Linked DNA regions of Homo sapiens. The protein of the gene in region 2 purifies or fractionates together with the protein of the main gene of each other region. This does not show direct contact. Each region holds a gene or a part of one and is shown on either strand. Other genes may lie near its edges.

Region 1 (3,338 bases), on a different chromosome or scaffold from region 2:
TGTCTCTACAAAAAAATTAAAAATTAACTGGGTGTGGTGGTGTACACCTGTAGTCCCAGGTACTCAGGAGACTGAAGTGGGAGGATTATTTGAGCTCGGAAGGTTGAGGCCACGTTGAGCTGTGATTGTGCCACTGCACTCCAGTCTGGGTAACAGAATGAGATGAAAGAAAGAAGGAATGAAGGAAGGAAGGAAGGAAGGGAGTGAGGGAGGGAGGGAGGAAGAGAAAATGTGAATGGATGAATCTCATAAAAATAATGCACAAAAAAACAGATACAAGTGTGTATGTGAGAAAACATTTTAAATGGTCCATTTCTGAGGCATGATAAATCTAAGTACTGGCAGCCAGCCTGCAAATATAACAAACTGCAGGGCTCATCCACCTAGAAGGTCACAATAAGGGAACAGAATGTAGAGGCGGGGTCAGCCCATAAAAGGGAAGAAAGTGGCCGGCGCAGTGGCTCACGCCTGTAATCCCAGCACTTTGGGAGGCCGAGGCAGGCGGATCACGAGGTCAAGAGATCGAGACCATCCTGGCCAACATGGTGAAACCTCGTCTCTACTAAAAATACAAAAATTACGCAGGTGAGTGTGTTTCTCACATAGATAAAGTTCAGAATACAAACCAAACTAAACTACAGCATTAGGAATGCACCCTTAGGTGGTAAAATGAAAAGAAAAACAAGAAAGTGATTACCATAAGTATCAGCATAGTTGTTACTTCTGCGTAGAAAGGAAAGGATAGTGATAAGAAGAAGAGGAAGGGTTCTGGGATGCTGGAAATATTCCACTTCTTGGACTGTGTGGTAGTTAAACGGATGTTCACTTTGTGATAAATCATTCAGCTGTATATTTATGTTTTGTTTACTTTTCTGCATGTTATATTGCACAAATAAGATTCGAAAAACAAATGTCCAAGGTAGTCAATGCAATGTTAAAGATAACACGAAAAGACTGTAATTACAAAGCTTTGGTAGCTAGGACGATCCGTATGGATGAAGACAGGCAAAGGAATGAATGAAAAACAATTTAAAAATCCAGAAAAGACCATGAATCTAAAATATCTTGATATATAATAGAGGTGGCACATAATCACTGGAGAACAAAGAGAAACACCCTAGGACAGAACCTTGAGAACGCCTACAAGAAGCGATCTTGTAAGCGTTCCTCATAAACATCAAACTGGTTGAAATGTCCCCCGCCCTTCGTCGTTGGGATGTTTCAGATGCGTTGGCGCTTCCCGGCCTCGAGGGGGCATCTGGAGAACGGCGGGCGCCGGGAAAGTACGCATGCGCACTGCTCCCAGGGTTTGCGGTAAGAATCTATGCTCTCGCGCCCGGTTACGCACACTGCATTTACAGCGCGCATAGCGCCCACGCACGCGCACTGGGGTGTCCGCCGGGCATCGCTCTGTCCAGTTATTCCAGTTTCTCTGGGAGCAGCCGAGTTGACCCCACGGTCTGAGATGTCCAAGCTGCCCGCAGACAGCAGTGTCCCGCAGACAGGCGCGGCGAATGGTGACAGAGACGTCCCGCAGGCGGAGGTAGGCCGCGGGAGGCGGGAGCCGGCCCCGGCACAGCCTGAGGAGGCCGGGGAAGGCGCGATGGCGGCGGCCAGGGGAGGCCCGGTGCCGGCGGCCAGGGAAGGTCGGATGGCGGCGGCCAGGGCAGCCCCGGCGGCGGCAGCCAGGGGAGCCCCGGTGGCAGCGGCGGCGTTGGCCAGGGCAGCCGCGGCGGGCAGGGAAAGCCCGGCGGCGGCGGCGGCCAGGGAAGCCCGGATGGCGGAGGTCGCCCGCTTGCTGGGGGAGCCAGTGGACGAAGAGGGTCCCGAGGGCAGGCCCAGGTCCAGACACGGGAACGGAGGCCTGGCTGCGTTGCCCTATCTCCGTCTCCGCCACCCACTTAGCGTTTTAGGCATCAATTACCAGCAGTTTCTCCGCCACTATCTGGAAAATTACCCGATTGCTCCCGGCAGAATACAAGAGCTTGAAGAACGCCGCAGGCGATTCGTGGAAGCCTGCAGAGCAAGGGAAGCAGCGTTTGATGCCGAATATCAGCGAAATCCTCACAGGGTGGACCTCGATATTTTAACCTTTACGATAGCTCTGACTGCCTCTGAAGTTATCAACCCTCTGATAGAAGAACTTGGTTGCGATAAGTTTATCAATAGAGAATAGTTATGTGGTGACACTACTTCAAGAGAACCTCTGCATTCCAGTCATACCAATCCTGCAACTTGATTTTCAGAAGTCAAGAGTATATCGCGATAAGACAGTGCACAGGTGGAGGGGAAAAAAAGGGGGAGGGGGAAGCTTATCTTGAAAAAGCATCACAGAAGTAGAAAAAAATGTCGAAAGCATTATAACTGTAACGTTCTTTGAGTTTGTGATTGATCCACATTTTTCCCCCTGCATTATGGAAAATGTCTCTCAGCATTGCTTTATTACAAAGTAAAGGATGGTTTTATAAAATTGAGACTGATGAAACATCAATACTAGAGCCCATGAGGATGAAAGAAATTATCAAATAGTGCTGAACAGAATAAGATGTTAACGCTGAGTTATTAGGACTGGAAGGCTATGAAAAGAACTTGAAATTGTCGGAATATGTGCTCTCTTCATGTCATATTCAATAGAAGTTTCTAGTTTAAGATTGATTTTGTGTTTTCTTAGGCATTTCAAGTGACAAGCAAAGTAAATGTATATATTATGTGATAAATCATGTTTTCAAGAACGTCAAATTTCTGGACTTTTTTCTTTCAATTTTTAATTTTTAAAGTTTTTTTGGTATTAAAAAATCTATTCACAAGCCAAAAAATATATAAAATATACAGCGAAAAGCCTTCCATTCTTGTTTTCCTCCATCCAGTACCAACGATGACCTCTAATAGCCACAGTTTCCTTTCCGTCCTTCTAGTTTCCTTACGTGTACACAGGCACATATAAATCTGGGTTTACTTGTTTTATTTCTTCACAGAAGTCGGCATATTATATTTACTGGTTTATACATTGCTTTCTCATTAAGAACATATGTTGACCCTTCCAAACCACTGTATTTCCTCATTATTTTTTAAAGTGGCATTTTATTCCATTCTGAGGTTATGTCCAAATTTACTTAACCAGGGATATATTGACGGACATTTAGGTTGTTTCCCATCTCTTTCTTTGGGCAGAATAAAAAATTGCTAGAGTAGTTCATCTTGTACAATTGCTAGAGTAGTTCATCTTGTATATCATGTGGCATGTGCACAAATATAGTATTGCTTCAATTCAAAATTCACTTCATATTTGAACATCTCTGAAATGTGGGTGCATCTTATATTTGATGCTGTAATAGATC
Region 2 (4,080 bases):
AGACCAAAGCTGTCACCTCCCTTAGACCTGATGCAAAGAAATAAAGTCTCAGCCTGGCAACCCTTGGCCAAGGCCTTTCAGAGCTAAGTGCAGAGACAGGGCTAGCATCGTTGTTTTTCCTCTATTTGGGGTGGGGGTTGGGGGCTTGGGGGAATGGTGCCTTCAGTCCACACTCACACTTCGACTCCCAGAAGGGCCTAGGGCTCTGTTCTCTCTACACCTGAGGACATTTACTCATAGTAAGGCCTACATCTGCCTGAGACCCAATGGAGGAAATGAGGGTGGCTGTATCTGGTCACAATGCCCATATTCTCCAGAGGCTGAAAGCTGTGGCTGGCAGGTTGAAGCCCTGTGATGTGTAGCCCCACTCATGGTCCTCACTCAAGGTCTCCAGTTTGACTCCTGGGAGGGCCTAAAATGCCTCCCACCCCTCCTGCTAACCCATCTGACTAAGACCTTCATTTCCCTGTTACTTCTGAAGAGGAATTTAGGGGCATTTCTGACATTTATGCTCGGGGCTTCCTAGCGCTGACATACAGAGGGACTCTGAGGGATCCCCACTGATGAGGTGGGAGTTCCCTCAAGTCCTCTCTATGAGGCCTGGCACAACCTGGAAATCCTCTCTCTACTGACCTGAGGCCCCTTACATCAGATTAAGATTCTCATTGCCTCATAGTCCCAAGATGAAAGAAAGCCTGAATCACATCCAGTCACCACGTCCTCTATGGGGCTCCACTGTTCTGGGGTCGTTGTTCTCTTTAGTCTTCACTCAAGCAGAGTCTGAGCTCCTCTCTAATCCCACTTGATTCTTCCAGGCTCATACAAAAGCCTTCACCTCTCTGAGTACCCAGGGCTAGTCTTGAGGGGATGACACATCTGGGTACTTCTGCCTGGGGTTTCCCAGAGCTGAGAGGGGGTAGAACTTGGTGAAGCCCCACTCTCTAGGTAAATGCTCATCTCATTCCTCCCTCAGTGACTTCTCTGTCTTGATCTAACGCCTATCCAGTCATACAAAGCACCCCCCGACAACTCCCTGAGGAAGAAGTGAAACTTTTCCCATCTGGCTACAATTGTCCATCATCTCCCAAGGATGAAAATCAGGAAGGAATTCCGTGTTTCTTTCACTGTTATGGGATGAGTGGTTCCCCCAGTTCTCAGGGTCTTCTTTTTGACTCCTGGAATTACCTAGGAATCCTCTAGCTGCTAACATAAGGCTGCCCCCTTTGATGAAGTTCCCCACTTCCCTGAGATGCTCTAGGAAGAAGTGAGTGAGACTCATCATGTCACCATACCTGGATCTCCCAGGTCTCAGTGGGGATAGGGCTCTATCTGTGTTACCTCTTTCTTGGAGGGGGTCCCCTCATACTCCCTCAGTGTCACCATCTTTTAGGAACTGGGCCTCCTCCCTGTACTAAACAAGGGCTTTCATGTTAAACCAAAGCCATTATGTACCTGAAACAGTACCTGAAGGAAATGAGGGGCATCTCAACTTGAGAGTTCTAACCCTGGCTTCTAAGGAATGAACGCCAAGGTAAGACTGTGTTCCTGCCTGTTCTGGACTAGACGGTTACCTCATTCCTCATAAAGAAATTGTACCTTGACACCTGTCTTGGCGTATGACTCCTATCTCTCTACTGAACTGGGGCAGTGAGGCCTTAAACCAAGGCCCTCCTCTCTCTAAGACTATGAAGGCAGAAGCCAGGGAGTACTTGAGCCTGCCAGCTCTGGCCTGGGACTCCCAGGGACAGCATCAGGCGCAATTGTCTCCCTCGTGTATAGAGTAGCCGCCATTTCCTCACTCAGTGTCTCCACCTCCACTCAGCACTCTTTCTGGGACTCCACCCATCAACTGCTCCTAACACCATGCCCCGTAGACAAAAGTTCTCATATTCCTTGGACCTAAGTTCACAGTCATAGTGGGCCACATCCCACCAAGGCTGACTGGGGCCTGCGTGTGCCGACAGCAGGAGCGGGACTTTTTTTTTTTTTTTTTTTTTTTCTTGAGACTGAGTCTCGCTCTGTCACCCAGGCTGGAGTGCAGTGGTGCAATCTCGGCTCACTGTAAGCTCCGCTTCCCGGGTTCACGCCATTCTCCTGCCTCAGCCTCCTGAGTAGCTGGGACTACAGCAGCCCACCACCACGCCTGGCTAATTTTTTCTATTTTTAGTAGAGACGGGGTTTCACCGTGTTAGCCAGGATGGTCTTGATATCCTGACCTCGTGATCCGCCTGCCTCGGCCTCCCAGAGTTCTGGGATTACGGGTAGTAGGGTTTAGGACTCCTCCCTCTATTGACCTGAGTCTATAAGGCTTAGGCCAAAGCCTTCGTCTCCCTGAGTCGCTGAAGAGACAGTCAGGGTGCTACCCATCTGGTTACCTGAGGCCTCCCAGGACCAAATGCAGAAGCGGGACTTAGAGGGGACCTCTTTGTTACGGGTGGGGGTGGTCTCTTCAATTTACACTCAGGGTCCTCACCTTGACTCCCGACCAGTCCTGAGAATTCACCCTCCGCTGACCAGACGCTGCACCCCACTCCTTAAGCTCGCTCGGGTCCTCGCCTTCAAAAGGGAAATGAGGATGAGCCACATCCGGCAGCCCAGGGCCTCTGAGGGCTGACGGCAGAGGCAGGACGCTACGGGACGTCACTGTTCTAGTGTCGCTGGTCCCTACGTCCCCACTAGGGTTCCTCACCTTAGTATCTAGCAGCCTGGGACGACTTCCGCCTGCTGACCCAAATCCGCCAGGCGGACACTGCGCCCTTACGCTCGCTGGGGTCCTCGCCTTCAAAGCGGAAGTCAGGATGAGCCACATCCGGCAGCCCGTGGCCTCCGGGCTGACGGCAGGGGTGGTACGCTTCTGGACGTAACTGTTCTAGCGTCGCTGGTCCCTACGTCCCCACTAGGGGTCCTCACCTTAGTATCTAGCAGTCTGGGACGACTCCGCCTGCTGACCCAAATCCGCCAGCCTCAAACAATAGCCCCACCTCTCTCAGCCCCCAAGGTGGAAATCTGAGCGTGCCACACAGGCCACCCCTGCCTGGGCCTCACAGGCCTGACAGCAGCGGCAGGGCTCTGTGAAAGTCCCGTTTTGGGCAGAGGCCTTCTCATCAGCTCTCAGAGTCCTCACCGTGACTCTGGTTTCCTCTCCAGGCAGAACTGAAGCTACTCCCTTCAGGCCCCACGCTCCCCATCCTCCATGAGACCTTCCAGGCGGAAATGAGAGGCACCTTAGGTAGATAGCTCTGTCTGATGCCTCAAAACGGGGTGAATTCTGTGGGGACTCATCTGCTGGTGGAGTCCCCTCTTAACACTTAAAAGCCCTACATTGATTCTTGTTAGGGTCTCGGCCTCTTCGCTCTGTAAAACTGAGGCTGCCCCAATTAGACGGAACCAGTCATCTCCCTGAGACTTTCCAGGCAGAATTCAGCCTGCCATCTCCGCCAAGGCTTCCTAGGGCTGACAGCAGAGGGGACTTTGTGAGGCCATGTGGGTGCTAGCTACCCTTAGTCCACATTCAGGTCCTCACCTTGACAAGTGAGCAAACCTGTAACTTACCCTTTGTTTACCTGAACCTGCTCCTCTCACATCAAGGTCCTGTTTTCTGAGAATTTCGAGTTGTACTCCTGGATGATCTTCATATGATCACAGTCCTTTTGCAACCTGCAAAAACAGATAATAAGGAAAGGACTCCATAGAACCCCACAGTTTTGGCTGGGTCCTTCCATCAGTCTTCATTTATGCTCCTCGCCTTTACATGTATCAGAACCTGGGACTCCTCTATCTACTGAACTGAGGTCACTCTCCTGAGGGTCTGGATGAACCCTTACATTTTGGAGTGGTTTTCTCCCCACCATTCATTCATGAGGGTTCTCATGTTGGCTTCTGTCTCTTGATCAAACTCTTCCAGGGAAATGTCACATCCCTGCAAAAATTTGACCAGTTTCCTCTTTGCAAACCTTGCAGAGAAGAGGTCCCTGTCCCAGAAGTGATGTGATGTTGGGAAACTGAAACGGAAGGTGGAGAGCCTAGGACAGATGTTGTGCTCTCAGGGAAAAAAACATGCTGATCTATTCCTTCACTTCA

The links.
Region 1: the proteins of MAGEB1 (region 2) and EID2 purify together in Homo sapiens (affinity purification with western blotting, with the first as the bait; one study listed by BioGRID). This does not show direct contact.

The regions. Positions count from the first base shown.
Region 1 is NC_000019.10:39,538,207-39,541,544, reverse strand, and holds EID2 (EP300-interacting inhibitor of differentiation 2), read left to right. Parts: upstream 1-1,383; 5' UTR 1,384-1,465; coding exon 1,466-2,176; 3' UTR 2,177-2,838; downstream 2,839-3,338.
Region 2 is NC_000023.11:30,245,866-30,249,945, reverse strand, and holds the start of MAGEB1 (melanoma-associated antigen B1), read right to left. Parts: upstream 2,801-4,080; 5' UTR 2,690-2,800; intron 2,557-2,689; exon of another isoform or gene 2,474-2,556; intron 1-2,473.